Homo sapiens: one gene and its partners. The protein of the gene in region 3 interacts with the protein of the main gene of each other region in a pairwise test. Each region holds a gene or a part of one and is shown on either strand. Other genes may lie near its edges.

The links.
Region 1: the proteins of PIBF1 (region 3) and POLDIP3 interact in a two-hybrid assay, tested with the Homo sapiens proteins (one large-scale study listed by BioGRID).
Region 2: the proteins of PIBF1 (region 3) and GMCL1 interact in a two-hybrid assay, tested with the Homo sapiens proteins (one large-scale study listed by BioGRID).
Region 4: the proteins of PIBF1 (region 3) and CCDC136 interact in a two-hybrid assay, tested with the Homo sapiens proteins (one large-scale study listed by BioGRID).
Region 5: the proteins of PIBF1 (region 3) and KIF9 interact in a two-hybrid assay, tested with the Homo sapiens proteins (one large-scale study listed by BioGRID).
Region 6: the proteins of PIBF1 (region 3) and TSHZ2 interact in a two-hybrid assay, tested with the Homo sapiens proteins (one large-scale study listed by BioGRID).
Region 7: the proteins of PIBF1 (region 3) and NEBL interact in a two-hybrid assay, tested with the Homo sapiens proteins (one large-scale study listed by BioGRID).

The regions. Positions count from the first base shown.
Region 1 is NC_000022.11:42,586,764-42,591,171, forward strand, and holds part of POLDIP3 (polymerase delta-interacting protein 3), read right to left. Parts: intron 810-4,408; coding exon 743-809; intron 1-742. UniProt on the Homo sapiens protein: Is involved in regulation of translation. Is preferentially associated with CBC-bound spliced mRNA-protein complexes during the pioneer round of mRNA translation. Contributes to enhanced translational efficiency of spliced over nonspliced mRNAs.
Region 2 is NC_000002.12:69,832,031-69,836,438, forward strand, and holds part of GMCL1 (germ cell-less protein-like 1), read left to right. Parts: intron 1-4,408. UniProt on the Homo sapiens protein: Possible function in spermatogenesis. Enhances the degradation of MDM2 and increases the amount of p53 probably by modulating the nucleocytoplasmic transport.
Region 3 is NC_000013.11:72,784,674-72,789,081, reverse strand, and holds part of PIBF1 (progesterone-induced-blocking factor 1), read right to left. Parts: intron 1-4,408.
Region 4 is NC_000007.14:128,794,770-128,799,177, reverse strand, and holds part of CCDC136 (coiled-coil domain-containing protein 136), read right to left. Parts: intron 1-4,408. UniProt on the Homo sapiens protein: May play a role in acrosome formation in spermatogenesis and in fertilization.
Region 5 is NC_000003.12:47,244,562-47,248,969, forward strand, and holds part of KIF9 (kinesin-like protein KIF9), read right to left. Parts: intron 3,526-4,408; coding exon 3,457-3,525; intron 2,917-3,456; coding exon 2,812-2,916; intron 1,692-2,811; coding exon 1,636-1,691; intron 951-1,635; coding exon 860-950; intron 364-859; coding exon 230-363; intron 1-229. UniProt on the Homo sapiens protein: Essential for normal male fertility and for progressive motility of spermatozoa.
Region 6 is NC_000020.11:53,258,357-53,262,764, reverse strand, and holds part of TSHZ2 (teashirt homolog 2), read right to left. Parts: intron 1-4,408. UniProt on the Homo sapiens protein: Probable transcriptional regulator involved in developmental processes. May act as a transcriptional repressor.
Region 7 is NC_000010.11:20,810,036-20,814,443, reverse strand, and holds part of NEBL (nebulette), read left to right. Parts: intron 1-400; coding exon 401-505; intron 506-1,503; coding exon 1,504-1,675; intron 1,676-4,408. UniProt on the Homo sapiens protein: Binds to actin and plays an important role in the assembly of the Z-disk. May functionally link sarcomeric actin to the desmin intermediate filaments in the heart muscle sarcomeres.

The DNA of each region.
Region 1 (4,408 bases), on a different chromosome or scaffold from region 3:
CTATCCCACTCACCCTGGCAAGTCTAACCTCCTCCCTGGTATCTGCTTCCTTATCTAGAAGGTGAAGTCCTCACAGTCTCAACATTTTATGCATCTCAGGCTTCAAAACATCCCTCAGTCCTGGGCCAGGCATGTATACTCAGCTGTGTGCAACAAAAGCCTTCAATGGCTTCCCACTGTACTTAAAAGCCAAATCCAGCTGGGCGTGATGGTGTGCGCCTATAGTCCCAGGTCCTCAGGAGGCTGAGGGGAGAGGGTTGCTTGACCCCAGGAGTTTGAAACCAACCTGGGCAACACAGTGAGACTCTCAAAATAACTGAAAAAGCAAAAAACAAACAAACAAACAAACAAACAAAAAACCTCACTGGGGAACAAAATAAGGGGTAGCATCTGGCACTGTCTCCATCAGAGCCAATCATGCAGTGGAGTTCTCTGTTCCCGGGATGATGCACACAGCTAGGAGACCCAAGCAGCCTCCCCCTCCAACTTCCACTCAGATATTTCTAAATCAGAAAGCTGAGAACGAGATCATAATGCTAGTCCCTATAGGGTCAAGCCCTGGGGAAATAACAAAGCAAACCATTTTGGTCAAGTTTAAGCATATGAAACGGCCAGCTGCCATTAGAACAGAGGAAACGGAATGGGGGGATGAAGGGGAGCTGTGATGCAGGCAGTTTACCCATTAGAACAAAAAGAGATGGACGGAGCTGCCTCTCCCCAGCACCCCGCCTTTGGAACTCACAGCAGGATGGGCTGGTCTGAGGTGATAACATTCCCATTCATGTGAAGGTTGCACTTCATCGGCTGCCCTGAAAAACCAAAGAAAGAAAAAGGCTCTGCTATGAGACCTCGGCTCCTCACACAAGAGGACAAGGGCTGTACCTCCATTATCAATGGTCAAAGCACCCACCACTGGCAGTTCTGGCTCCACAGATGGAGATGGGGCTGCTAGGTTCCAGTCAAGCCAGACACTAAGAAAATCCCAGGGCGTGAGGAAACCTCAGCAGTGGAGCACCAAGAGGCAAAGTGGCCACAAACCTTGCTTCATACAGGAAGAGATGAGTGGGAAGTGAGGGAGAAACGAGACTCAATGTGAAGCCATCCAAGTAGTAAGGGAAAAGGTTTATGCTATCAAATTCAGTGAAAAGATGATCAAAAGCATTATGTACAGGCTTCTACTCTGTCTACAAAGGATGAAGCACTAGGAAGACCACACTCCCACTGTATACAAAGCATAACATGTGTAACGGTAATAGCACAAAAAAGAGGAAGAAGGAACAGGGCCATGTGGGAGTAACATTTCCATATCTTACTCGAGTTAAGTTAGTGAATACATCATTAAAGGAATTAAAATATTGGGGAAAAAATGTGAAAGAAAAGCCACTGAAGAGGAACAAAAAAGTAAAATGGGGCCGGGCGCGGTGGCTCACGCCTGTAATCCCAGCACTTTGAGAGGCTGAGGCGGGTGGATCACGAAGTCAGGAGATCGAGACCATCCTGGCTAACATGGTGAAACCCCGTCCCTGCTAAAAATACAAAAAATTAGCTGGGTGTGGTGGCGGGCGCCTGTAGTCCCAGCTACTCAGGAGGCTGAAGCAGGAGAATGGCGTGAACCTGGGAGGTAGAGCTTGCAGTGAGCAGAGACCACATGCCACTGCACTCCAGCCTGGGCAACAGAGCGAGACTCCACCTCAAAAAAAAAAAAAAAAAAGTAAAATGGAAGAAATAAACCTAATTATCAATATTAAATATGAATGGATTAAATAATCCAATCCAAAGACAGATTGTCAGATTGAATTCAAATAAAAAAAAAACCAGTAAGATCTAACTATACACTCTCTATAGGTGACACATTTTTCTTTCTTTCTTTTTTTTTTTTTTTGAGATGGAGTTTCGCTCTTATTGCCCAGGCTGGAGGGCAATGGTGCGATCTCGGCTCACGGCAACCTCCGCCTCCTGGGTTCAAGCGATTATCCTGCCTCAGCCTCCGGAGTAACTGGGATTACAGGCATGTACCACCACACCTGGCTAATTTTGTATTTTTAGTAGAGATGGGGTTTCCTCATATTGGTCAAGCTGGTCTCGAACTCCCAATCAGGTGATCCGCCTGGCGGATTACAGGAGTGAGCCATTGTGCCCAGCCTAGGAAACACATTTTTACAGTTGATGAGAGAAAAAGATTGAAAGTAAGAGTGGGCCAGGCTTGGTGGCTCATGCCTGTAATCCCAGCACTTTGCAAGGCTGAGATGGGCAGATCACTTGAAGCCAGGAGTTTGACAGCAGCCTGGCCAACATGGCAGAAACCCCATTTCTACTAAAAATACTAAAAATTAGCTGAGTGTGGTGGTGCACACCTGTAGTCTCAGCCACTCAGGAGGCTGAGGCACAAAAATCGCTTGAACCTGGGAGGAAGACGTTGCAGTGAGCCAAGATCATGCCACTGCATTCCAGCCTGGGCGACAGAGCGAGACTCCGTCTCAAAAAAAAAAAAAAAAAGTGAACAAAGATATATCACTCAAATAGCAACCCTAAGAAAGCTGGTCTTTTACTTATTAGCTTATTAGCTATTAGTAATATAAAATGAAATATACTTTAAAACAACAAAAAAAGTGACTAGAGGTAAAGAGAGATTTAAATTTGACTGAAGGGTCAATTCATCAGGAAGAAAACAATCAAACATATATGCAAGTAACAACAGAACCTCAAATATATAAAATAAAAATACACAGAAGTGAAAGGAACAGACCAACAGTAATAAAGATCTCGCCGGGTGCAGTGGCTCACACCTCTAATCCCAGCACTTTGGGAAGCCCAGGTGGACGGATCACTTGAGGTCAGGACTTCAAAACCAGCCTGGCCAACATGAGGTCAGGAAATCAAGACCATCCTGGCTGACACAGTGAAACCCCATCTCTACGAAAAATACAAATATTAGCTGGGCGTGACAGTGGGCACCTGTAATCCCAGCTACTTGGGAGGCTGAGGCAGGAGAATTGCTTGAACCCGGGAGGCAGAGGTTGCAGTGAGCTGAGATCATGCCACTGCACTCCAGCCTGGGTGACAGAGGGAGACTCCGTATCAAAAAAAAAAAACAGAACCTCAGTATTTCACTTTCAATACTAGATAGAACCAAGCAGATCAACAATGAAACGCACTTAAACATTACAAAGCAACAAGACATAATAGACATGTACAGAACATTCCACCTAACAACAAGAAAATACATATTTTCCTTAAACACTCATAGAAGAAAAGAAAATCTGGAAAATTCATGAATATATGGAAATTGAAACAATCCTAAATAACCAATGGGTCAAAGGAGAAATCACAAGGGAGATTAGAAAATAATTCAAGATGAATGAAAATGAAGGCATGATATACCAAAACACGGAATGCAGTTACAGCCATGCTTAGAATATATAGCTGTAAATGCACATACAGTCATGTATCATTTAACCATGGGAATACATTCCAGAGTGCAGTGGCACGATCACAGCTCACTACAGCCTCAACTTCCCAGGCTCAAGTGATCCTCCCACCTCAGCCTCCCCAGCATCTGGGACTACAGGCACACGCCACCACGCGCCCAGCTAATTTATTTTTTGAGACAGGGTCTTGCCACGTTGCACAGGTTGGTCTCAAGTTTCTAGGCTCAAGCGATCCTCCTGCCTCAGCCTCCCAAAGTGCTGGAATTACAGGCTTCAGCCACCACACCCGGCTGTACAGCATGTTACTCTACTGAGTAGAGTAGGCAACTGTATTTGTACATCTAAACGTAGAAAAAATACAGTAAAAATATGGTATTATAATGTTATGGGCCCACTGTCATATATGTGGTCTGCTGTTAACCAAAAAGTCCTTATACTGCATATGAATACATTAAAAAGCAGAAATAAACCTACAGAATGGGAGAAAATATTGGTAAATCACTTATCTGATAAGGGACTTAAGAATATGTAAAGTACTTCTACAACTCAGTATTTAAAAAGCAGACAAAGATTCTGTACAGGCATTTCTCCAAAGATAGCTGGGCACAGTGGCTCATGCCTATAATCCTAGCACTTTTGAGAGGCCGAGGTGGGCAGATCACCTGAGGTCAGGAGTTTGAGACCAGCCCGGCCAACATGGTGAAACCCTATCTCTACTAAAAATACAAAAAAATTAGCTGGGCTTGGTGGCGTGCACCTGTAGTCCCAGCTACTTGGGAGGCTGAGGCAGGAAAGCCGCTTGAACCGGGGAGGCGGAGGTTGCAGTGAGCTGAGATCACGCCACTGCACCCCAGCCTGGGCAACAGAGAGAAACTCAAAAAAAATAAAAAAATAAAAAAATAATAAAAAATAAAAATAAAAAAAAGAAAGAAAAAGGAAAATAAGTATCTTTCCACATCCAAACATATGACAAAAAATAA
Region 2 (4,408 bases), on a different chromosome or scaffold from region 3:
GCCAACATGGCGAAACCCTGTCTCTACTAAAAATATAAAAACTAACCAGTCGTGGTGGCAGCTGCCTGTAATCCCAGCTACTCGGGACGCTGAGGCAGAAGAATGGCTTGAACCTGGGAGGCGAGGTTGCAGTGAGCCAAGATCGCACAACTGCACTCCAGTCTGGGTGACAAAGTGAGACTCTGTCTCAAAAAAAAAAAAAAAATTCTGACTTCTTGTCTGTATTCTGCACTTAATAGCCTTATTTCCCTCATATGTAAATTGGAGATATAAATACCTGCCTTTTAGGCTTTGACAAATATGAGAACAAACAAATGCACAATGTCTAGAATGTAAGCATGCAGTAAATATGTCTCCTTGATGAATTGGCCCCTTTATCATAACAAAATGTTCATCCTTCTTTATCCCTAGTAATTTAGCCACTACCACATACATACATACATATATACATTTATTTATTTATATTTAGGGGGTACAGCTGCAGGTTTCTCACATGTATATAACAAGTAGTGGTGAAGTCTGGGATTGTAGTGTATCCATCAGCCACTTTCTTTTGATAAATGTCTGAATGATATCTTATTTTCCCTCCTTTCACTTTTTACCTGTGTATATTTAAAACAGATATCAAGTAAACAGCATATAGTTGAGTCTTGCTTCTTTTGTCCAACAGGACAATCTAACCTTTCAATTAGTAGTTAGACCACTTATATTTAACGTAATTATTGAAATATATGTCACAGTGCATTTGAAGGAGAGAAATCACACAGCAATTTGAATACAGGAAATTTAATATAAACATTATTAACAAGGCACAGAGAATTAACTACTGAGGACAAAACGCTAAGGTAAAGAGATCCCTAGAAAATACATGTAGTAGTCAGTACTTCTAAGGCTGAGGCAGAATAGCCACAGAAGGAACAAATTTGGAATAGGTGCCCCCACCCCTTTCCCAAGCTAAGATTCAGATGATGTTGAAGGAGGTGTGGCTGTAGCCCACTGGATGGTGGAAAAGTTTGCTCAAGTGTGGTAAGCTGAGGCTGGCAAGTAGGACACTGCCTACTAGGATGCCAACAAAATTATTTGGAGGCCTTTTGGCCCAGAAGGCTAAAGATATTTACTATCTAGACCTTTACAGAAAAAGTGTACCAACTCCTAGACTACATGAGTGGACTGGAATGGAAAGTTTTTAAGGCAAACCTTTATCGGAAAATGCATATCAGAATTTAGTGTCTGTATATTACTGGAAGATGCTTGGATTATTCAGCCCAATACGGATGCAGGGTGTAAGAAAATACTAAGACGGGCCAGGCGTGGTGGCTCACGCCTGTAATCCCAGCACTTTGGGAAGCCAAGGCAAGCAGATCACTTTAGGCCAGGAGTTTGAGACCAGCCTGACCAACACAGTGAAACCCCGCCTCTACCAAAAAATACAAAAATTAGCCAGGCTTGGTGGTGCACGCCTGTATTCCTAGCTACTTGGGAGGCTGAGGCAGGAGAATTACCTGAACTCAGGAGGCGGAGGTTGTAGTGAGCCAAGATTGCGCCACTGCGCTCCAGCCTGAGCAACAGAGTAAGACCCTGTCTCAAAAACTAAACAAATAAAAATTTAAAAGAGAAAGTATTAAGATGTTGAATTTTGTGTGTTGGCCCTAGTATATACTTCCTGAGGTTGTCTGGTGTGCTCTCCCACATCAACAGACCACTTTATGAGAAGTTTTAGCTTTTAGGCCCAACTTCCACCTCATACCTTTGTCAACTGCATGTTCTACTTTTACATTTACGAGACTGTTAAAACCCACACTGTTCTACAACCAGATCTTGAGTGTTTTGTCCGTAGCTTGTCTCTAAAAAATTGAAACGACATTACATAGTTATAACTAAGTAAATATTGTTTCAGAAGAGTTAAGTAGTATGCTAGGATTATAAATCATACTTGATGGGTCCAGTGTCACAACTGCTTGTCTGTTCAAAGGGAGAAATTTTTCTAACCTCACAGTCATATGGAATCTTTTCTTGTATTCCATCAAGTGCTTAAAGTCAGGCCCTGCTTTTGTTTTTATCTTATTTGGACAGTGCCTTTTTTTGTATTGCTTTTTTATTGTCCTAGAGTTTATAATGGCCTTTCCCCCACTCTTGTCAAAATAACAATATTCCTTCATCATGGCTTCGGGTTTTTCTGAAAAAACACAGAAAAGTCTTTTGAAACACACTTTCATGGAATCCTTCTCTAAAACCTAGACCTCTTCCATCCTCCTGTTCCAATCTGGATTTGTCTACTCTTATGCTGGGACTTACTTTCACCCCATCTCTAGGATTGAATCCACTATTTTGTGTAGCCTGCATTTCTTTCTCGCTTATTTTAGGAACTATTTAATACATCCTCAAGTATTTTCCAAGGAAGGGTGCAAAAGGGGGTAATTTGTGCGTATCTAAATATAAATTTAGTCTCTTTTACTTTATTCATCCTCTGACTGGGTATGGAAATCTAAAGTAACTTTCTTCATATCTTTGATGACGCTGCTTCATTGTCTTCAGGCCTACAGTCTTGATGAAAAATTTGATTCTGGTGTAATTCTCTTTTCAGGTGACCATTTTTGCTCTCTGGAACTTGTGGAACTTTTTCTTTGGTATTTTGGGATTTAATTAGAATGTGCTTAAGTGTGGGTCTTTTAATGGCCTTGGTACTTGTTGGATCCTTATAATCTGGAGACTCATATACTACCTTAGTTTTGGGAAATTTTTTTCCATTAATTTCTTCCATAATTTCCTTTCGCTTCTTATCTTTATTTTTTCTTTCTGGGATGCCTCTTAACTGGATTTTGGATTTCTTGGATTATGCCTGTCTCTTCTTTTTTCCTTTCTTTGTCTTTTTGCTTTATGTTCTGGGAAATTTCCTTTAACTTTTTCATCACTATCATTAGGTTGTTTGGCCCTAACTATGAGGTATTTCTTTTGGACCAGGGGTGAAAATTACTAAAATATGAAATGTGCTGTGATCCATGAAAGCTTGGGAACCTCTGCTCTACAAAGCATGCCCCACCTATAACCAACTTCGTAGTCTTCTTACTCAAAGAAGAGGTACCTTGGAAATAGATCTATTTACTCAATTAAAACACCATACATCAGTTATTCATTCTTAAATATAAGTGGACAAGCAAGGAAGGATCACCCAACATGAGGAAGAAAAACAAACAAACTATTCTTTGGTTTATTTGTTTTTTTAAATTTCAGTAATCATGTCTTTAGTCTCTAAAAGCTCTTTCTTGTTCTGAGTGATCCTTTATCATAGCAGTCTATGGGGTAAATATAATAATCTCAGATCTCTAGGTATACTGGTGAGAGGGTGTTTTTTTCCTCTCTTTTCCCTGAATTATATGTTTCCAGGGGTGGAGGGAGTCTCTCTGTCTCTCTGATATGCTCTTATTCTTCCTCATGGTGGGTGATCCTTCCTTGCTTGTCCACTTATATTTAAGAAGGAGTAACTGGTGTATGGTGTTTTAATTGAGGAAATAGATCTATTTCCAATGTACCTCTTCTTTGAGTAAGAAGACTACGAAGTTGGTTATAGGTGGGGCATGCTTTGTAGAGCAGAGGTTCCCAAGCTTTCATGGATCACAGCACATTTCATATTTTAGTAATTTTCACCCCTGGTCCAAAAGAAATACCTCATAGTTAGGGCCAAACAACCTAATGATAGCAGATTGCATGGTATCTGAAAGATGTTACTGTGTTTCCTTCGAATTTAAAATACTCCACATGCCTCTCTGAGTTGGCTGTGGTGCTCTAAGTTCAGATGGTATCCTGAACTGGTGAATTTCACACACGGTTTGGGAACCATGACTTAGGGTGAATGGATTGGGAGTGAACAGGCCACAGATTCTTTAAATTTCAGAATGAGGATTGCTTTGTCTGGGCACCAGCAGCTACACTACAGCCTTAGATCTTCCATTAGCTTTGTGCTATTTCTAGAAAAACCTTGGAATCTTTTTGCCTCAGTATCTGTACTCTCCTTATCTATACTCTGTGTTCATAGAGTGGAGAAGGCACTAGTTTCCCCATTTTCTGCCCCTCTTCTTACTTCTGCCTTTGTTTCCCTGAGACCTCATCCTTCTTTTCTCCCAAGGGTTCTGATGGGCAGATAAGCTTAGCCTCCATCCTAGTCCTCCATAATGTATTTTTTGGCTGTGGCTGTCACTGTTCTTTTTCATTTGAATTTGTTTTCTAACTTTCAGATCTGTATAAATCTCTCATCAAGTGATGAGCCTACCCTCACCTTTTCCTGGTGTGGACTTATTCCTTTTTTGTACTCTTAATCTTTAATGTAATTTGGGGAGGGATGGGAAGCCAACATGTGTACATTCTGCCGTCAGGAACTGGAAACTACATTGTCTCTTGATTTCGCATCATA
Region 3 (4,408 bases):
GTTTGGCCTGAATAGCTACTCTTCTGAGTAGCTTTTCTACATTCTTTCAGTTAACAAGCAGCTGAGTGGGAAGTGCTTTTAAAGTGTTCTTGGACCTGCTTGTTCCTGTTTTTAGACATGGAGAATTCAAATCAATACGGCCAAGACTATTCCTAGTAACAAACTATAATAAAGCCATGTATCCATAACCATTTGTATTGGTGCCACAATGGAGTGGGACATGTTAGATTCAAATATTTTCTAACTAAAAAAAGATTTTGATGGGTAGAAGAAAAAACTTACTTGCCTCCCAACATCAAACCTTCCCTTCTTTCTGACATACTCTGGTTTTTATTAGTAACAACATGTCCAGTTAGCTTCCCATCCCTTGTAGGTAGGGGTGGTCATGCTATACAATGTTAGTCAATTGAGGCCACTGGCTTGAACTTCTGGAAGAACTCTTTAAAGAGGACTGACTCATTTGGCACATGCCCCCTTTTCCACTATCCTTCTCCTTATTACCACCTTTTACATGTACACAATACTGGAGGCAGATAAGCTATCTTATGATTTCAGGTGAAAAGCATATGTTGAAAATAGCTAAGGTTAAAAGGAGCCTGGGTTCCTAATGCGATCAAGGAGTAATCACTTGAGGTCTACTAAAATACCTATTTTTGGATTTTTGTTATACCAAAGAAACAAAATCCTTCTCTTGCTTAAGCCATGGTTTCCAGGTCTCTGTTACCAGAAACCACCATTTTTCAAGTCTCTGGTATTAACTGCTGAACTTAATCCTTGAAACCCTGGGCAGTTGGTTCAATCTCTTTCCAAAATAGAAATACCTATAATATTTATTAACAGTTGACTATTCAGGACTACTTAAATGCTTCCAATGACAGGAAGCTCAGAAACTTAAGATCAGGCCATTTCAATGTTAATAGCAATAACAGGCTTACACTGAGCAGAAATCTACCTTTCCTGTGACTTCCAACCATTATCATGGAGCTATAGTCTAGTGAGGAAAATTTATTTTTCATAACGTTAGCATACGATGCTCAATAAGCTTTGGAGAATGAATGACCAATTAAAAATACCTTTCTTTCAAGACCTAGGCTTTAAGTTTCCTGCCCAGGCTAAAAAGTGTATGGCATGGCTGGGTGCAGTGGCTTCACACCTGCACTTTGGGAGGCTGAAATGGGTGGATTGCTTGAGGCCAGGAGTTCGAGACCAGCCTGGCCAACATAGTGAAACCCCCATCTCTACCAAAAATACAAAACTTAGCTGGGCGTTGTGGCACGGGCCTACAGTCCCAGCTACTCGGGAGGCTGAGGCACAAGAATCGCTTGAACACAGGAAGTGAAGGTTGTAGTGAGCTGAGATCATGCCACTGCACTCCAGCCTGGGCAACAGAGTGAGACTCTGTCTCAAAAAAATTAAAAGAAAAAAAAAGTATATGGCAGCACTACCAAATTGAGCCCCTTTCTTCTTCACTTAAAAATTCAGAGAGGATGCTACCAGATAGATTTGAATCAAATACCGCGTGGTGTTACCAGATCCATCAGGCTTTTGGGGACCCTGTTCATTTCAAAATACCCCATGAACCTTCTTTGCTTTCTTCTAGAGCTGGACCTCATTGAAACACCAAGAAAACAAACAGCTCTAACACCAGGAGTCCAATATACTTCTGAGTCCTCACAATCGACCAGAGGGACAAAATTCAGTGGGGTGTACTAGCTTTAGAATCACTGCTCACAAGAAACAGTGTAGCACTTTGTTCATCTGGAGTGCTTCACACATAAAGACAAAAATAAAGACATAACTAAACATATAATAACACATACAAATAAAGGTGTTATTTTAAAACATATAAAGAAATATGTCACATACCAATTTATACATAAACAAATAAGTGAAAAAATATATATCATGTGTGTAGTGCTGTTTGCCTGTCTAAGGTGTTATTCCCAGGGCATGTAAGAAGTAAACATATATATACACACATACACACATTAACATACATATACATATTCTTTAATAAAAATATTTTTTAAATATTCTTTCATCAACTCCAGACTCACACTTTCTCACATTTTAACATCTCTAAAATTGGAATGCATTTTACAATCTAAGGCACTTAACAATTCAACTGGAAGTGTTTAACCTTAGCAATGTATGTAATGATGCATCTTACAACAGAGGTGCTTTAGGTTCAATAAATTATGGAAGGCTAACTCTACAATAGGTATTTCTTCATATATTTGAGAGCAAACATCTTATTCCTAAAGAGTCTTCAAGCAGAGAATCCTGAGTGCTCGTATGATAGAGAAAAAAACTCTACTAATATACAGCAGGGCAGCTATTTTGGAGATAACCTGGCAGTACACTTAGTTAAATGAAGGAGACATTTATATATGTCAAAGACATGCTCACAGAGGTCCAGAAGAGAAATGTCTAATGCTGCATGTGTTGCAAGGAGCTGGAGGCAATCTGGATGCCTAGCAATGTAGGAGTAGAAAGACTGGTAGACGCACACAAAGAATTACATAAGAGTTGGAAGCAAAGGACTAGATGTATACAAAGTAATAGATAACTTCAAAAACAGTGCTGAGTAGGAAAAAAGAGATGAGAACTAAAACAAAGCATATAATTTACATTTCTGTAAAGTTAAAAGATACACATTCTCAAGAATACATGTAAACAAAACATTAAAATGTTTGCATTAAGAAATGGAATGAGCTATAGGAATGAAAAGAATAAATACATTAGAAAAACAGCAGCCTTTCAGGGATCAATGATGATTATGTGTCAAACTCAGGAACACGACTATTGCAATCTTCTACATTTTCAGTCAAACTAGAAAACCACAACAAAAACTACACTAAGCACCATGGAAGTAGAAAAATAATAATATTGTGCTGAGTAAGTATAGCTACAAATAAAATAATATGTAAATAATAAGTTTATTATTAGTATACACCAAGCATCTATGAGCTTACATACATTGATTAATCCTCCCGATAATTCCACGGAATAAATACTATTATCATTTTATAGGAAATCACGGAATAAAAACATTAAGGAATTTAGTAAGGCTGGAATTCAAAACCCAAACTGTGTGCATCTAGAACTGTAATTTGGATTTGTTACACTAGAGAGCCTGTCATGAATCAACCAACATTTCTATAATATAAAGCTTACACCTAAAAAGAAGCAAAGCCATTGACAACCAAGGACAATGCAAGTTGAAAACAAATAATACAAGAGGTGGCTGAACAAAATGTAAGTCTGGATATGGTATACAGGTGGCACTTAAAAAAATACTTGTTGACTGAGTGGGTGAATTAATGAATGGGAGATAACCTCAGGTTTCTTCAATGAGTTGCACTAAGGTCTGGAGAGGTGAAGGTAGATGGAGTTCATGTGAAATGCAAAAAGAGTAAGGGAATAGGGATGGGAAACCACTGGATGCATGGATAAACTACCAAGTGACCTAGACTAGGTAGGTGACTGTATAGGGTACCTAAAAGAAAGTGTTTGGAGCTTCACTTGTGTAGAGTATAGGCTTTAGACTTCCTAGGTTTGAATCCTATCTGGCTCTATCACTTTCATCTGAATGGCCTTGGGTATGCTATTAACCACCTAGTGGCTTTGTTTAATCAGAGCAAAATGGGGTTCAGTCATTCATTTAAGAAATAGCTGGGCACTTAATTTGTGTCAGGCACCGTTCTAAGTGCTGGAAATACAACCATGAATACAAAAACATCCCCGTCCTCATGGACCTCATAGTCTATTCACAGACAAATAACAAACAAATTCAGTCCGATGGCCATAAAAGGCACAGAAAATGAAAGGGATGAAACAGATAAGGATGCTATGTTAGTTGAAAACAACAACGGCTAATACGTCTTGTGTGCTTATTTTTTTTTCTCCCCTCAAAATTTGTATATTGAAACCTAATCACCAATGTGAGTAGCAGGAAGTTGGGGCCTTTGGGGTGATTAGGTTATAAGGGTAGAACCCTCACTGTTGGGATTGGTGCCCTTATAAAAGTGATCCCAGAGAGCTAGCTGGGCATGGTGGGGAGCACTTGTAATCCCAGCTACGTGGGAGACTGAGGCAGGAGAATTGCTTGAACCCAAGAGGTGGAGGTTGCAGTGAGCCAAGATTGTGCCACTGAACTCCAGCCTGGGTGACAGAGCAAGACTGTCTCCAACAACAACAACAAAAAACAACAAAATACCTCATATGTTAGATTTTTTAAATTGAGCCTACAAAAGTAATTTATCCATATCTACGTTTAAATCACTCCATATTTCAATACTTAAATTATTATTATTATTTTTTTGAGATAGGGTCTCACTCTGTTACCCAGGCTGGAGTGCAGTGGTACGATCTCAGCTCACTGCAATGTCTGCCCCCGGATTCAAGT
Region 4 (4,408 bases), on a different chromosome or scaffold from region 3:
TTTTTAATGTAGAGATGGGGGTCTCTTTCTGTTGCCCAGGCTGGTCTCAAACTCCTGGGCTCAGGCGATCCATCTTGGCTTCCCAAAGTGCTGGGATTACAGGCATGAGCCACCACACCTGGCCCTGTTTGGATATTTTTTAAAAATTAGAATAGAATCTAGACTTTCAAAGAAGACAAATTTGGACACGCTTCATAGATAGATGCTGAGTGGTGAGGGCATCTCAGGGGAAGATCTACCCTGCTCCCCTGAGCTCACATGTGGAACTATGGGCATGTCTTTTGCCAATCTTTCCAGTTCTAGAATGATCCTAGCTGTTACGTCTCCTTGATCTATTCAACAACTATTAACTGATCCTTAACTGCGTGCCAAGGCCAAGAATCTCCTGTTAGATTCTCTGACTTCCTATTGGAAGAAAAGTCCGCTCTACCCCCACTACTGAGCAGCACAGTGAGGTCTGTCTAGCTAGGGAGACACAAGAGGAAGCTGGCCATTAGGACAAAGGCCCTAGAGTCTGGGGTGGGTGTTCTGGAGAAACAGACCAACCTCCACCTCCCTAATATGCTTTTGATGTTAGGGTTCAACTCTCTCTTAGGTGCTTCTGGCCCTAAAAAAATGGTATTGTCGGCCAAACACGGTGGCTCACACCTTTAATCCCAGCACTTTGGGAGGCTGAGGCTGGTGGATCACTTGAGATCAGGGGTTGGAGACCAGCCTGGCCAAAATGGCGAAACCCCATCTCTACTAAATATACAAAAATTAGCCGGGTGTGGTGGCTGGCATTTGTAGTCCCAGCTACTCGCGAAGCTGAGGCAGAAGAATTGCTTCAACCCAGGAGGAGGAGGTTGCAGTGGGCCAAGATCTCGCCACTGCACTCCAGCCTGGGTGACAGAGCAAGACTTCGTCTCAAAACAAACAAAAAACTCTACTGAGGAGAGAATCGCTCTGGAACCCTATTTTCGGCCGGGCGCGGTGGCTCACGCCTTTAATCCCAGCACTTTGGGAGGCAGAGGCGGGCGGATCATGAGGTCAGGAGATCGAGACCATCCTGGCTAACACAGTGAAACCCCGCCTCTACTAAAAATACAAAAAATTAGCCGGGTGTGGTGGCGGGCGCCTGTAGTCTCAGCTACTCGGGAGGCTGAGGCAGGAGAATGGCGTGAACCCGGGAGGCGGAGCTTGCAGTGAGCCGAGATCACGCCACTGCACTCCAGCCTGGGCGACACAGCGAGACTCCGTCTCAAAAAAAAAAAAAATAGAACCCTATTTTCCCAGGTAGTTCCTGCCTGCATCTCTGCTTCAATTCTGACTTTTCGCCCGTTTGAATGGAGGAACGTTCCTTCTCCAGGCAAAGGCCTTTTTTTGTACTGGATCTTTTCTTTCATTATACATGATCTAGCATTTCCTACCTTTGAAAAAAGAAAAGAAATAATCTTTTGACCCTATTTCCCTTACTTCTCTGCTTCTCTTCAAAATGACTACTGGAGTTATCGGTACTCACCTTCATCTCCCATTTCCTCTCCAAACCCAATCCAATCGGTGCCTCCATGCACTGAGATGTCTCAGGGTCCTCTCTCTTGCCAAATCCAAGACCATCTCACTTGACTTAGCAACCTGACACAGTGGATCACTGTCTCCTTGAAGCACTTTCTGCTCTGGCTTACAGGGCATGACATGCTCCAGGAGTTCCTCTCACTTTACTCTTTTGTTCATTTCTCCTTCTATACTGGACCTCTAAATACTGGAGTGTCTCTGGGACTGGACCCTTTCTCCTCTTCTGGTGTCTCTCCATGTGACTGCACCATTATTTCCCATGGATTCTAATGCCAATTATATGCTAATGACTCCAAATTTACATCTCCGGCCCTGTTTTCTCCCTGGTTCTGCCTTTATATATCCAACTGCCTCAATATATTCACTTGGATGTCCACAGTTACTTCAAACTCAACAGAGGAAAACATGTTTTAAATGGCTCCCCTAGCCCCAAAACTTACCCCTTGCCAAGTCTTTCCCAATTCAATAAACATCACCACCTTCCATCAATTTTCTCAAGGCAAAGTCATCTTTCATGTCTCTGTTATCCCCTGATCGAATTCATTAGCAAATCCCGAGGGCTTCACCTTCAAAATATATTCTGGGCCGGGCGCGGTGGCTCACGCCTGTAATCCCAGCACTTTGGGAGGCCGAGGCGGGCGGATCACGAGGTCAGGAGATCGAGACCATCCCGGCTAAAACGGTGAAACCCCGTCTCTACTAAAAATACAAAAAATTAGCCGGGCGTAGTGGCGGGCGCCTGTAGTCCCAGCTACTTGGGAGGCTGAGGCAGGAGAATGGCGTGAACCCGGGAGGCGGAGCTTGCAGTGAGCCGAGATCCCGCCACTGCACTCCAGCCTGGGCGACAGAGCGAGACTCCGTCTCAAAAAAAAAAAAAAAAAGAATATATATATATATATATTCTGAATCATCTCCATTTCTACAGCCCTAACTCAAGCGACCATCATCTCTTGACTGGACTATTGCAGTAACTTGCTGACAGGACTCACTGTTCTGAGTCACTTCCCTCCATCTTAAGTGTTTCCACTTAGTGGCCAAGTTCTCTTTTAAAAATGTAAAGCAGATCGTATCATCCCATTCCTGGCTAAGACCCTCTCCTGGCTTTCTACCACACTTAACATGAAAGCCAAACCTCTTGGCTGGCCTACAAGATCCACTGTAATCTGGCCTCTGCCTGCCTCAGAACGTTCTCTTGCCAGGGTCCTCCACGTGCACTTTGCTGCAAACACAGTGGCCTCTGTTCTGTCGCTCAAACAAATGAAGCTCATTCTCACCTCTGGGCCTTTGCAGTTGCTGTTGCTTCTGCCTGGTATGCTCCTCCCTCAGATCTTGGATGGCTGGATCCTTTTCATTATTCAGGTCTTAGCTCAAATGTCATCTTCTCAAAGATGACTTTCCTAACTGCCATATCTAAAATAAACTCCCTTCAAGACCAGCCTGGCCAACATGGTGAAACTCCATCTCTACTAAAAATACAATAATTAGCCAGGTGTGGTGGCGCATGCCTGTAATCTCAGCTACTCGGGAGGCTGAGGCACTAGAATCGCTTGAACCTGGGAGGCAGAGGTTGAAGTGAGCTGAGATTGTGCCATTGCACTCCAGCCTGGGCAACAGAGTAAGACTCTGTCTCAAAATAAAATAAAATAAACTCCCATCCCACCTCCTCTCTGTATCATATTATTATATCGTGTTCATAGCATTTATTGCCATCTGAACTTGTGTTGTTTATTTTCTGCCTCTCTCCGTTAGAATGTACTCTTCATTAGGGCAGAGATGTGGTCTGTCTCATTCACAGCTGGTCCTCCAAGTATAAAGGCACCTCATAAATAGGTGATAAATAAATTAGTCCCATTTTACAGATAAGAAATGACATCTCAGAAAGATAAGTGACTTGCCCAAGATCACACAATTTCTAAGTGGTATAGCTGGGCCCAGGAATCTAGGTCATCCCAGATCAATGCCCACACTCTTCCCTATGTGACACGTGTCCTGCCACTTTCCTCCTCTGCAAGCCCCTTCACTGACCACCCTTCCTGTATCTACCTTTGCTTACATTTTCTGTCCCCGTCTCCTCTCCTCCCCACTTACACCTCTGCTTGCTCCTGTCCAGGCCTGCTTCCTGGCCTTCCTTTTTTTTCTCCATTTATACTTTTCTTTTGGCTTGATCTCAGTTCTCCCCAGAGTCCCTGCCGTTTTCTAGGGCAGCTCCCCTAAACCTTCCGGAGGCCCACAGAAGTAACAAAAGCTGCCTCTTTATTTGGTGGTGTGGTGGAATGTGGGGCATCTGCCTTGCTGCTTCCCAGAGACAAAGGGACGTGGGTGTTGGCAAAAAGGGATTTGGGGCCCACAAGCTCAGGTCCCAGGCAGCAACAGAAGTGCTGTCATCTGTCTCTCTTAATAGGTGCAGAGAGGCCCCACCAGTCACTTCTCATTGGCTTCATGCTTTCCCATGCCATCCTTGGAGGAACCAGAAAAAGGAATCCGGCTTGGAATTCAACTTGGATCACCCACCCCTGGCACTGACCAGGAGAACAAAGGGACAGGGATGCAGTATGAAGGAGGAGGCTGAAGGGGCAAGAGGAAAGAGCCCACCAGGGACAGGAGGTGACAGGGAGGCCAAGAAATGGAAGGGGAGGACAGAAGAGCCAGGTAGATGTGCAAAGAAAGAAAACTGGGGACAGAGGAGGATGGAGAGACAAGGAGAGGAAAAGGGTGAGACTAGTAGAGGAAAATGAGGTGAAATTACTGAATTTGGTTATTTTTATCTGCTGTGCTTCAGTCAAACCCTCAGGAAAAAAGTACTTAGGTGACCACTTGGATGGCCACCTCCCTCCAGTCCAAGTCCTGGGAATTA
Region 5 (4,408 bases), on a different chromosome or scaffold from region 3:
TTAACTCCCACCTCACCAGGTTGCTGTGAGGACGAGAGATGATTCTTGTGCGGTTCCAAACCAGCCCCAGCCCGGGCCCCACAGACTTGCTAGTATTGGCAGCAGTGACGTCCATTGTGCCAACCCAGTAGCTGAGACACCAGGGGGAAAGTGGGAACAGTGCACATCCTCCCATGCACCCACCGAGGAGGGCCAGCTGCTGAGGAGGCAGAGCGGCAAGGTCACTCACCTGAGTGGCTCTTTGAATGTCTTCTTGGACTTGGCTTTCTTCCCAGGTTTGGTAGAGAAAGGGGCGACTCCGAGTCCAAAGTTTTGTCCTTCAGGCTCACCCACTAGGTGGCCATCAACATCCACAAGCCCCGCCTACATAGAGAGGCCAGCCAAAGGTCTGTGAGTTAGATTAAGGGCTTGGACCCCTTGGGGACCCACATGTATATGGCCCAAGGCTCAGGGTGGACATGTTCACCATACACACCAAGGTTTGACAGCTGCTGATGCCAGCCTCAGGCTGTCCCCTGTAGAGCGGTCCCTGACCACTCTGCCAAATGTCCACTTTCCACATGCACCCCCTCACCAGTATGGCACCTCATTCCATACTCTGGGGATCTTAAAGCTTATTTCCAACCTAATTCCAGGAAATCGTCTTTAATATTATTATCCATGTCTCTACCTTATGGAAATTATTTTTAATTCAAAAGTGGTTTACTCTTAACACAGGTCACCTGTGTTCATTCTGGTGTTACCTTTATCTGTTGCAATCCTAGCTCTGGTTTAATGCATTAATACTTGCTGGCTCTGCAAAGGTCTGAGGATGGGAAATCTGAGGTGAGTGCTGTCGGCAAGTAGCAACTATGCTTACCTTCTGGATAGCAGAAATGGCTGCAAAGTCATTCCTGTCAATGAGGGTGTACTTCCTGCGCAAAGTGGACTCCACTTCCTGTTCCTGTTGGCTTGGGAGACAGCAAGAGAGAACAGCTTGTACCTGGGGCCATGCTGAATCCACTGGGGCAAGAACCAAGTACTGGGGTTAAAAGTCATATGGGTGAGGCCCCTTGTGTGGGGCCACACCTTCATCATGAACCAGACCAGACAAAAGGACAAAGGACTCACTTCCCCCTGCCCCATTGCATATACCCACTGTCCGACCCCCATACCCACAAGGGCTACCTTATGTCATGTGTGTCTGCTCCAAGATGACACTTGATAAGGACCGTAAGCTTCACTTGGGACCATGTGGGGTTCTGTCTTAGGTTCTGTCTCTAAGAGGCCACTTGGAATCACATGACCAGCTTTAGTGACACCACCTAGCATAAGCTGCTCAGACTATGGGTATGTTTGCACCCAAATAAACCACAAATGCCTCCTGAGGTGGGAGTGTGTGTTGCAATATTCACAAGGTGAATATTCACAATGCCCTGCTCTGGGCACTCTCAGAGCTGGCACTCCATAAACACCTCCTGTCCAATTAATGAACTCACTGAATATCCACCAGGGACCCAGGCATGCCCCCAAGGACTCTGATTTGGCTCTTCATCCACAAGCAAGAAGAGGAGCTCTTGGAGGCAAGTGCCCAGATGGCAGGAGATGAAAATGGCAGCCTGATGTAGGAATGAGGTAGGGGTGGGGGTCTCTCACCTCAGAACCACCCGGAACTGGTTGAACACCTCCTTGATCTGTCTAAGGCTGATTATCTGGAGGGAAGACAGCAAGGCAGAGGTTAGACCAAGGGCACCTCGAGGGACCAGGGGGCATCTATGTTAGTAGAGAAATCAAGACCCCTTGGCTGACCCCTGGACCATCTGTCTCGAGAAGAGGACGTGTGCACACAGCCTCTCAGCGAAGTGGCAGCCAAGCCCTCCTCCAGAGCAGAGAAACACCTGATTAATAATTTTAAAACTAAGTATTTGCTGAGGCTATAAAAACCACCTTTTCGAAGTGGAGACCTCTATAAAATGAAATGATTCTATACCTTGAAAATACCTTCTAAAGGTTTTTTTTTTTTTTTTAATAAAATGTACTTCTCAGCTTTCTCTTACTTCCAAAAGGTTCTGCCTGCTGTCTTCAGATGGAGCCCATTTATGGTCCTGTCTGCATGGGCACAGACACACACACGAGGCTGGAGGAAGGTTACTGGCCTCCCCCCAGCCTAAAGCCCACAGCATTCCCCTTGATCAAGGGTTAATTTGGGACTGCCCCTCCTGTGAAGGCCAGAAGAGTCCATCCCTTAGTTGTCCCAGGCCTGCTTCTCGGAGCTGCCCACAGTAACAGCCAGGGGGGTCTGCCCATGTCTCCAAGAAGAGGGGTTTGATGGACTGCACTGTGAAAACAGGATGCAGCCTTCCCCCTGAGGACCCTTCCTTGTGGGGTGGTTTCCCCCTCCTTGGCCCACTCCAACATGGGCCCTGGGGTCTACCTTGTAGACAACCAGCATGACCACCATCCTTCATCAGCTTCATTCTGCGGACACAGTCAAGCACCCCAGGTGCAGCAGCTCAGTTAATCCCCACTCTGTTTCCCTCCCCACTAGGCAGGTGAGGCCACTGAAGTACACGAGGTTGAGTATTTTGCCAAGGTCACTCAGCAAAGAGGCAGCTGAGCTGGGATTCAATCCTAGAAAGCCTGGCTCTAGGGCCTGTGCTTGTGCCCCTGAGATGAGCTGAAGGGACCCTGACATCAAGAGTCCAGCACCACCCTCCACCCACTGCACCCATTCACATGAGGCTCTGAGGCCAGCAGAGCATGCGTTGGGGTGTGCCCAGGACTGGGAGGCCCAGGCTGGCTGAGCATAGTGGTCACAGAGGGGTTCCTTACGTCGATCTCGTCCAGTGTCCCCTCCAGGTACCTCCGCACCTGGGAGTTGATCTCAGCAATCTGGATTTCATCCATGGGGTCATAGGTCACAAAGGTGCGGTTGGTCTTGAAGGAGGATGAAGAACATGTGGATAAGCAACAAGAACCTGAGCCCACAGGGGAGTGGCAGGGGCCATTCTGAGAGGCAAAGTGGGGAGGCTGGGCACAGGCCCTGGCTGCCCAAGCTGGCTCCTTCCCTTCATCATCGGGTCCTGCCAGAGGGCCTGACACAACAGGCCAGGTGCTTGGGTCAGAGAGGGATAATGGGGTCGGGGAGGAAAGGAAAGACCCTCAGACATGGGTCCTGCTACTCCAGACAGAGGCTCTGCTGGCTGAGTCCCAGCAGACTCTGCAGCATGAGAAAGGCGAGGACGGGAGGCATGCGCTGCCTCTGCCTCGAGGCCCCTCAGGACCGTTGGAGGACTCTGCTCCCAACCCCTGTCCTCATGGACCCTTGCTGCTGCCCCTTTCCTGCCACTGAGCCTGCCCCCCAACCCCGCCCACCATTGGCCTTGACCCATGATGCTGTCTGCCCCTAGCCCCAGTCCCTCTAGTCACCCCCTACCCCAGCACCTCTGCCCTCCTTCTTTGCCTCTAGCCTCTTACCAGGCTGTCATGGATAGCCAGCTCCTGCTTGAGTAGTGCTAGTTCCTTCTCCAGGTTCTTGACCATTCTCTGCCGGGAAACATGGTAGGGTGGGGGCCGACAGGAAGGATCATCAGAGAAGCTACCCTGTCTCTTCCACAGCAAAAGTACAATTCCTCATTCTGTGCCCAGACATCCTGGCCATTCCTGGATCCACAGGGTATGCTTTCAGCTTCTGGTGATTCCCTCCCGACTGGTGACTCTTCCCTAACTGGGGTGAGTTTAGGGTCTGGGAGGACCTGAACAGTCCCCTGGCCTTTGCTACTGCCAGTAGAAGAGACAGCACAAGCCACACAGCCACCTCAAACCCCAACTCCCAGGGGCCCCAGGCTCCTTCCAGTCTACCAGGATAATGGCCCTTTTGGTGCAGCCTACAGACTCCAGAATGCTTTCTTTTTTTTTTGAGACAGAGTTTTGCTCTTGTCGCCCGGGCTGGAGTGCAATGGCATGGTCTCAGCTCACTGCAACCTCCGCCTCCCGGGTTCAAGTGATTCTCTTGGCTCAGCCTCCTGAGTAGCTGGGATTACAGGTGACCGCCACCACACCTGGCTAATTTTTATAATTTTAGTAGAGACAGGTTTTCACCATGTTGGCCAGGCTGGTCTCGAACTCCGGACCTCAGGTGATGCACCCACCTCAGCCTCTCACAGTGCTAGGATTACAGGCATGAGCCACCATACCCAGCACCAGAATGCTTTCTTTTTAGAGAAAGGCTCTTGCTCTGTCCTCCAGGCTGGAGTGCAGTGTCACCATCATGGCTCACTGAAGCCTCAACCTCCTGGGCTCAAGCAATCCTCTCACCTCAGCCTCCTGAGTAGGTCATGCTACAGGTACACACTGCCATGCCCAGCTAATTTTTGTAGAGACAGGGGTCCTACTATGTTGCCCATGCTGGTATCACACTCCTGGGCTC
Region 6 (4,408 bases), on a different chromosome or scaffold from region 3:
AAAGCAACTGCACACCAAATCCTCTTCTATTTTGGTACCCTTAACACATTCCCTTATCTCCCTGGCCTACATATCATTTAACAAACTGCCCTGCGATTCTTGCAGGGCGTGGCATCATGACTGATTTAAAATCCCCACATTGCTAAAACTGCATTGTTCTTCATCAAGTTGAGTCATTTTTATGTGAAGTGTCAAGCTCCCTAACAAATAACTCCTGCCAGACAAATCAAGTTCCTCGTCTTAGAGCCGAGGCTAAATAGTTTATAGCTTTAATCTGCTCACCGAGGTGTGCAGTCTATGACAGTAATTATAAATGCAAGGAGAAATTATAGCTGAATGCTTTAACTGCATTAGGAGCCGTTTGATGAACAATCATGAACGCCTGCTCATTTCCAACAATAGAGGGCAAGTTAGTGTCAATGCGTTAGAGAGATTTCAGTTCTGCATGGCTTTTTCTCCCATTTACCACAGAATGTCACTTGTCTCCTAGAAAGTAGAAAAAAGCATCGTGGAAAGCTTTAAACTTGATAGTTAAAAAAAGAAAAAGACAAAGAGAAATGCAAGGAAAACTGTTTATCATTATGACTTCTTTTTCTCTGTTTGTTTGGTGGCAGGTTGGGTTTCAAATTAGCTCAGTGAAGGTAACTGCTTGTTTACTTACTAGAGGCCTTAAAAAAAAATCCTCCCCAAGCCATTTTTGAGAGATCTTTATGGAGAAAGACTTCTCTGCAGGAAGGGCAAGTTCAAGATCCTCACAGAGAGCAGCTCTGGCGATTGTGTGTCCCTCCACCAGATTCTGCTCCTCATCTGCAACCACCTAAGCTAATGACACAATTTAGCTCTTTATTTTCCCCTCCTCACTTTCGCAAAGACGTTTTTAATTTAGCTGAAGAATTACACAAATGTATTTTAAAGACATAAATCCATATAAAAAATATGAGCTAATTAAAACATTGCACTCCCTGTCGCTCATGGATTTTCAATTTAGCGAAAGAAAAAAGAATTGCATCTGGTTAAATGAAAAGATGATACTGATGGCAGATTGGAGTAAATGAAAAATAATGTTACTCTATATTAAAGCACCAAATTATACACGTCAGGATTGAGCATTCAAAAGTCCAAATGAGGGGGGAAGGTGCAATGGAGGCTGAGATGCATAGACGGAGTTAAGCCAAATATTTTTGAAAAAATGCAAACGTTAAGGAAGACGATGCATTTGTTTCTTGCTGCTTGAGAGATGCTAGATTATTGTACTTGACCCTGTTTCCTCAGTTCTCATTTCCTTTCCCTAAAATGAATTCCTGAGGGTCAGAATGAGGATGTTCTTTTTTAATATTAGGTGTATGTATTTTCACTGGAATTTGGGTCATTTCTTGGTTAGACACCATATGGCAAATGTATAATTGCCTGATTGAACAAGAGCATTAAAAGAAAGAGAACAAGGATGTTCTGCTTCACCCTGCGGGTCAGTCCTGGGCCCCTGAGTTGCAATGTTTGATAGCTGGAGCCTCCAAAAGGCCCAGGAAAGTGTCCTTTCTCCTCTCAGCTCTTAGGCCACATTTTACAGCTTTCTCTCTGGGCTGTTGGAGGTACATCCAGCCATGAGTATTACCTAGAAACCATCAGGCAAGGAGGAGGAAACCAAGGAGCAGGAGAAAGTTGATGAGCATTGGACAGTCCTGGGTTCAAAACCTACCTCCAGGTTTAGTTTTGTCTTCTTGGACAAATCATGAAACTCTTTGAGCTTTGGTTTACCTCTCTGCAAAATGAGGATAATATGAATAATTATGCCTGAGTTATAAAAAGAGGCCAGTCAACGGTAGTTTCACTGTCATTGTTATCTGAATCAAACAGCAGGTTGAGATTTTGCAGGATTATTAATTAGTTAGAGTTGAGAAGTTGCTGCAAGTTCTCTACGCTGCAGGTGAGGCTACAGAGCATGGTAAGAGCATGTAGTGGCTCTACCTAGAACTTGCTTTTCTTATAGACCTACTATGTGCTTTCTTGTAAACCTACTATGGGCTTTAAGGAAAATAATTACATACATTTAATTCTTACAACCTTCCTATGAGAAGGATATTATGTCCACATCATAAAGATGTAGAAGTGGGGCATGTCTTCATGAAAGCAAGTGAGTTGGGGGTTAAATCCAGCATTCTTTTCCAAACACTGCCTCTGAGACCACTGTTCCCCATCCCGGCTTCCCCCAGAACCAGGCAGAGCCACCTCCTGTGTGCTCCTTTCAGCATTTCCCCTAGAGTTTTTCATCTATTTGTCTGCCACTAGCCTCAAAGGCAGACTCTTGTCCTGGTTATGGCTTACTCCCTGGGAATTAGCACAGTGCTTGCTGTGGAACGATGGCTTTCTAGATATGTCATAATGAATGAGTGAGGCTCAGAGATTGTAGGACCTTGGGGAATTCAGGCAGAATCTCTCTGCCTCCATTTTCTCTTCCCTATCATGAGTGAATCAACCTCTACTTCATACGGCTGTTTGTGAGAATAAAGCAAAATAATGTTTGCAAAGTGCTTGCTGCAAGGCTTGGCATGTTTTGCTATTACAATTGGTAGAACTTCTGGTTCAGTATTATACTTCCATTGTTAAATATAATAGAGTCCGGTGCATAGTAAAAGCACAACCAGTATTTGTTGAAGGATGAAAGGAATGCAGGGAGGGAAGAAAAGAAGGAAGGAAAGAAGAAAAAAGGAAGGAAGGAAAGAAGGGAAAGAGGAAGGAATGAAGGAACAAAGGAGGGAAAAGAGGATGAAAGGAAGGAATATTTATTTAATGGAGGAAGGAATGGTTGATGCCATTAATAGATATTAATTTGTCCAGGCTATTTTGTTCTTCCCAACTGCCATATAATCTATGCTGTTAGGGTTGCCAGATTTAGCTAATAAAAATACAGGATGCCCAGTTAAATTTGAATTCTGATAAACAATGAATATTTTAAAAATATAAGTATGGCCCATGCAATATTTGGGCCAGGCTTATACTCAAAACCTATTTGTCATTTATCTGAAATACACATTTAACTGGACATCCGTTCTGTATTTTGTCTGGCAACCTTACGCGCTTTTCACCCTGAATATGTGTTTTTATCAAGCCGCCCACAACAGAAGTGGCAGCTCATTGGACTAGAATACTTTCCTGCCAACAATTTCAAGGCTAGGTGTGCTGTTAAGCTTGTACACTATATTACACAGTGATGACTATAATTTCAAGCCTTTATGCATTTCAGACTCATTGATTTGCTCTCTGTTTAATTTCTATTAGTCAAGAGCATGTGGCTTTTAAAGCTATATACAAATACATATTGAAATTGTTTTAGATTACTTATGACCTAAAATAGAGATGCACACTTAATATTTTCTAATGAAATTTTTAACGAAAAGTTGCATTTAATATTTGGCAGAGCATTTTGCAGGATTTAAGATATATCTGGTAAAGGAAAGAAAATTCAGATCAAAAGTTGTGTCTTTCAAAAAACATTGATAGGTTAAAGCTCTCATAGTTTCCAAGAAATCTTGATCATACTTTCTAAAATATCATGTCACTTTGCACAATTTGTGCTACTATGCATTACAACTAAGATTAGAGTTCCAGACAACAGTGATGTCATTTCATGACCATTTAGAAACCTTACATGCATCATTCTAAGCAATGGGCAAGGTATTGCATAAATATTGTTCTAAAAGAGGACCCCGGGGGTGGAGGCATTTTTTTCTAAGGTGACCAAAGCACCAAGAATCGACCTTTGTACAGATGGGGGAAACATTCAGGCAGATAGGAGTATTTTTACGATGAACACAAACACAGCCAGTACCTGCACCATCTTTTCTGTTTACAAAACATACATACACGCCCATGGCTTTGAGTGAGTCCCAAACACTCAAACCTGTTTTTCTGCAATCCTCTCAGAACCACAGCCTAATGGTGCTTGTAAGGATGGAGCTTTGGTTTTGTATAATGAAAACACCAATACGGTGCTTTCGAGGTCCAAATTAGATATACTCATCCTGTACAAATGCAGAGAAGTGCCAAAATGGCTATCTTATCTATGTATTTAATGGATTTGGAAGTACCTTTTGTATATGTTTTTCCAAATTATTGGTTCACCTTTGAATCCCTAGAACAGGTATCATACACTCCAGATTCTGACTGACGATGGATCAAGCTTTCTTTTCCTTACCTCTCCCTATCTACATATCAGAGTGTTTTGGCAATTATATTAATTTTCTAAAAAAGATTACAAACCTAACAGGTGGAAAAGTGGTCTTTGTTATAGTACAAATAAATATTACCTATTTGTCCTCTTCACCATGGTTTCAACCCACCACTATTGGATTTGAAATATCTTTCTTCTCTCTAAGTATTCTCTGTATGCCCCCCCTCTTTTTTTTTAAGA
Region 7 (4,408 bases), on a different chromosome or scaffold from region 3:
TTTTTACCTGTAGAGATGGGGGGTTTCACTGTGCTGCCCAGCCTAGTCTCAAATCCCAGGCCTCAAGTCATCCTCCCACCTTAGCTTTCCAAAGTGCTGTGATTACAGATACGAGTCCTCGGGCTTGCGCAGGTTTACAGACTAGATAGATAGTTACTATTGGTCATTCACACATTTGTTTAGAGTTGATAGATTTAGGTCATTTAGCAGTAGGCGGTGGAGGAGATCTTTGATTGTAAAATTTTAGGTTGCTATTCTAGAACAAAATTTAATTCACTGAAATAGTTACCTGGAAAATAATTTCAAGTATGTTGCATATGTTTCACTCATTTGTAAAGCTTAAAAATGTTACATCATGTGTTTTCTTATCATTGTCTTATGCCTACTATTTACTTTGCAGGTAAAATATACCCAGGACCATAAACAGATGAAAGGTAGACCAAGTCTGATTTTAGATACACCTGCTATGAGACATGTTAAAGAAGCACAAAATCATATTTCAATGGTAGGGTCCAACCAGATCATTCTTAAAACATGCTAAGGAATGGGCGGATCCAGTGCACGGATGGCATTACTTCACTATTAATCCGATAACTAACAAAGCATGGAAATGTGGTTGGCTTGTCTTTTGAGGGAGGGGCATTTCTAATCACACTGAAATGCAGTGGAAACATTTAGTCTAATAAAATGATTTTTCTCAGTGACTTTTTCTGGTGTGTCTTTATTTCTAACGTGACTACTGTAAACTCATAGTGTGAAAGATATTTGTGTAGACTTCTTTCCAATTAATTCTAAGACAAAATTTGGTCTGTTTGCCTGTCATAAAGGATATGAAAAGAAGTGTGTTTTTAAAGCTGTGTTTTTAAAAATGTGTGTTTTAAAAATTATATTATCAGATGTAATTTACCTACCATAAAGTTTGCCCATTTAAAGTGTTCAATTCAATGGTTTCTAGTATAATTTACAGTTACACAACTATCTCCTGGACCTAATTTCAGGACATAAAAAAAGTATATTTTGAAGTATAAGTTTTTGTAATTATATTAAAAGTGGTATATATTGTTACCTATAAAATTTCAAACTGATTTTAAATAATGCCATTTTCATGAATGATTGCCTGGAAATAGATATCACTTTATTGCATACTGAAGTTGAAGAGATAGGAAATTTAATTTATATTTAAATTAGTATATTTTAGGAAGTAACCAGGATTTGAGAATATGTATTTTTACAAGCTCTCATTAATAATATATATATAGTTTTATATATAATTTAAAATAGATATGAGCTATAATGATTAAAAACTTTGTGAAAATATCAGCACTTGATTTCTGATGCTAAGAAACTGAAGTTCCAGACTTTAGTTTTGGAGTATTTGGAAAAGATACATACATGTAGACAATCTGCACGCAGCCAGTGCAGTGTACACCTGTCATTTAATAAAAATGTTGTGAAAGAGGTAACTATCCGCAAAATTCAGTATGATGATTTTTCCTTTTTCAGGTAAAATACCATGAAGATTTTGAAAAAACAAAGGGGAGAGGCTTTACTCCCGTCGTGGACGATCCTGTGACAGAGAGAGTGAGGAAGAACACCCAGGTGGTCAGCGATGCTGCCTATAAAGGGGTCCACCCTCACATCGTGGAGATGGACAGGAGACCTGGAATCATTGTTGGTAAGCTGACGGCGTTTGTCGGCCGGTGTGTGTGGTCGAAAAGATCATGCTTGCTCTAGCTTCAGAATTACCCTCTTGAGTCATCTGACTCCTCATCACATGTTGGTTGTGGTACCCAATTTAAAATGGACCGCAGGTAAAGTATTATTTTTGTACGATGTGGAATGGGATTTCTGGCATTCACCTGGTATCATCTCAAGTCTTTTCTATTATTGGAAGCTCTGTCTTTAATACCTTGCTAATTTTAAGAATGTTCCTCCTTGTATCACACACCAGGGCCTGTTGTGAGGTGGGGGGAGGGGGGAGGGATAGCATTAGGAGATACACCTAATGTAAATGACGAGTTAAGGGTGCAGCACACCAACGTGGCACATGTATACGTATGTAACAAACCTGCATGTTGTGCACATGTACCCTAGAACTTCAAGTATAATAATAATAAAAAAAAGAATGTTCCTCCTTGTTAAGCAAAGAAGCAGCAGAGATATGAGTGATCACAATGGTTGAACAATTACTTTGTTTTTCTTTAAAAAGAAAAACAAAATAATTGTTTTTCTGCTTGGTTGACGTGTTGTTCTGTTGACCTCATGTGCATAAGTGGCAGAAATAACCATATTGCGTTTAGGTCCTTTTATCAAAAACAGACACGCCATGGGCGTTCTGATGGTACTCCATAATAGTAATAGCTCATTTTAAAAATATTATTTCTGGACTGGAATAGTTGAGAGCCATCTGAAAGTCTTGCAATTAAGAGAGCAAACTTTTATTCCTGCTATCTGTTCCTTATAGTCAGGAGAAATCCTAGAAGGATATTTGTTGAATGGTGGCTGAGATATCAGAAAAGATCATACTGAAGTATAAGGCAGGGCTAGGAAGGATGATTATTGATTTTTCAGTCTGTATCAACAACTGAAGACTATTGTCTCCTTCAGAGCAGTTAACCTCTGAATTATGTAGTTACGTAGCTTAAAGAATATTTTTGGTATATGCCACTCAGTAATATCAGTGTTAGGTTTTCTTCATCTTCAAAAGTAGGAGCTTATTTTTTGGTACTAGTGAAAGGCCATTTAGAGATAAGCTAAATTTGACAGGGTAATGTCTTTACAAAACCAGGGTGCTAAAGTCAGAGCAGCACTAAGTAACTTGGATGATTATACTAAAGTGACTCTGGAAGTATTTTCTGAAGAAGGATTCCAAACATGTTTGTAGGCAATTGATAGCTTTGCTGATCTGCCTGAGTTGATTACTTAAAAGGATCACATTAAGTTGGATGGATGAGTTGTGATGTTTTCATTCAATGTGACACCAAATTAGAGTTTCATTGCTTTGTGCTAAAGGGATGGAACTATCTTAAGGGATAGTGCAGGGGTTCTGATTTATCTCACTTAGGGTGGAACTGCTAAAGTCTGTACAGCTTACTTCCAGGCCCTGCACACATCAGAGGTCAGGAATGATGGTGAGGTCGTTGCTAAAAACCATGAAACTGTCTAGACCGTGGGCTCTCAGAATTCAGTACTCAAAACCATTGAGGTTGAAATTATGATTGTTTTATAAAATATAAGATGTATGACTCTAAGTTATTTACTTACTTGGCAATCCAGAAGTCAGTTTATTTGTTCTTATTGGGAAGAACTGTTTTCCATTGAAATTTCCATAATTGGCCAACATTAAACTTTCCAATGAGCCAGCTTCTGTATCAGGCATGAAAATACACGTTTAGAGATTTTCTGAGTAATTCAGATTAAGCCAATTTGTGCTGCTTCTATTTTTGTTGGAGGCTCTGCTACTTCTTACGAGCTGTGTAACCTTGGCCAAGCTACTCAATTTCTCTGTGCCTCAGTTTCCTCATCTACAAAATGAGGATAATATGTATGAAACTTAAATTAATTAGGTGTTAAATGAGAAGAGTGCCTGGCATATGGTCAGCACTACATAATATTAATTAAAAACAGACAAGCAAATTTCCAGTTCCATTTTACAAATTAATTGTTTTTGCTGTAGCCCCATTTCTGCCGTATGTCTATAACTAGGTTTTTCTTTTCCAGTTGTTGGTACAGCTGTAAACAGCTTATTTTAGGATCTGATGCCCTTTTGTTGGAGAGACTGGTGAATTCAGAAGTTATTAAAATAAGAGGAGAATAAAGTGGTTTGCACAGTCTGATCACTGACTATGGCAGGGATCCATTGACAGCAGGAAGCTGATATTATTTCTCTTTTCATTCATCATATTTCCTTGCTGTGTGCCTTGCTTATAACACTTTTTAAATAAGTGTATCTAATAAGATATGCATTCCCTAAGATACACTTAGCTTGCACTCACAGACTCAGAATGAAAACTAGGCTTGCCACCATTCCACATTTTAAATATTCATTTCTGTTATAGAAAGGGACTTTTTTTTTGTTTGTTTTGTTTTTTAAACATAAACTTCTCAATTGTTTCCTATGAATTACTCACATGTCCTGAATCAGAAACTATAATCAAACATTTTGCTTGTTTCAGCCTGTGGAGAGCAAGAGTGACTGGGGATTCAGGGGTGCTGTGAGGGGATGCATATAGCTGCCCCATGTGCTCCTGTGTTGTGTGATGGGTCACAGGTACTTCAGCAAGGTCTGATAGGGCAGCTCAATGAATAGAGCAGGCAACTTCAATCTGATTACAAAGATTTCTTAACAGATACTTGTGAAAGCAAGTATTTTTTCATTCTCTTCTGAAGTCAGCAGCACTGTGAGTTT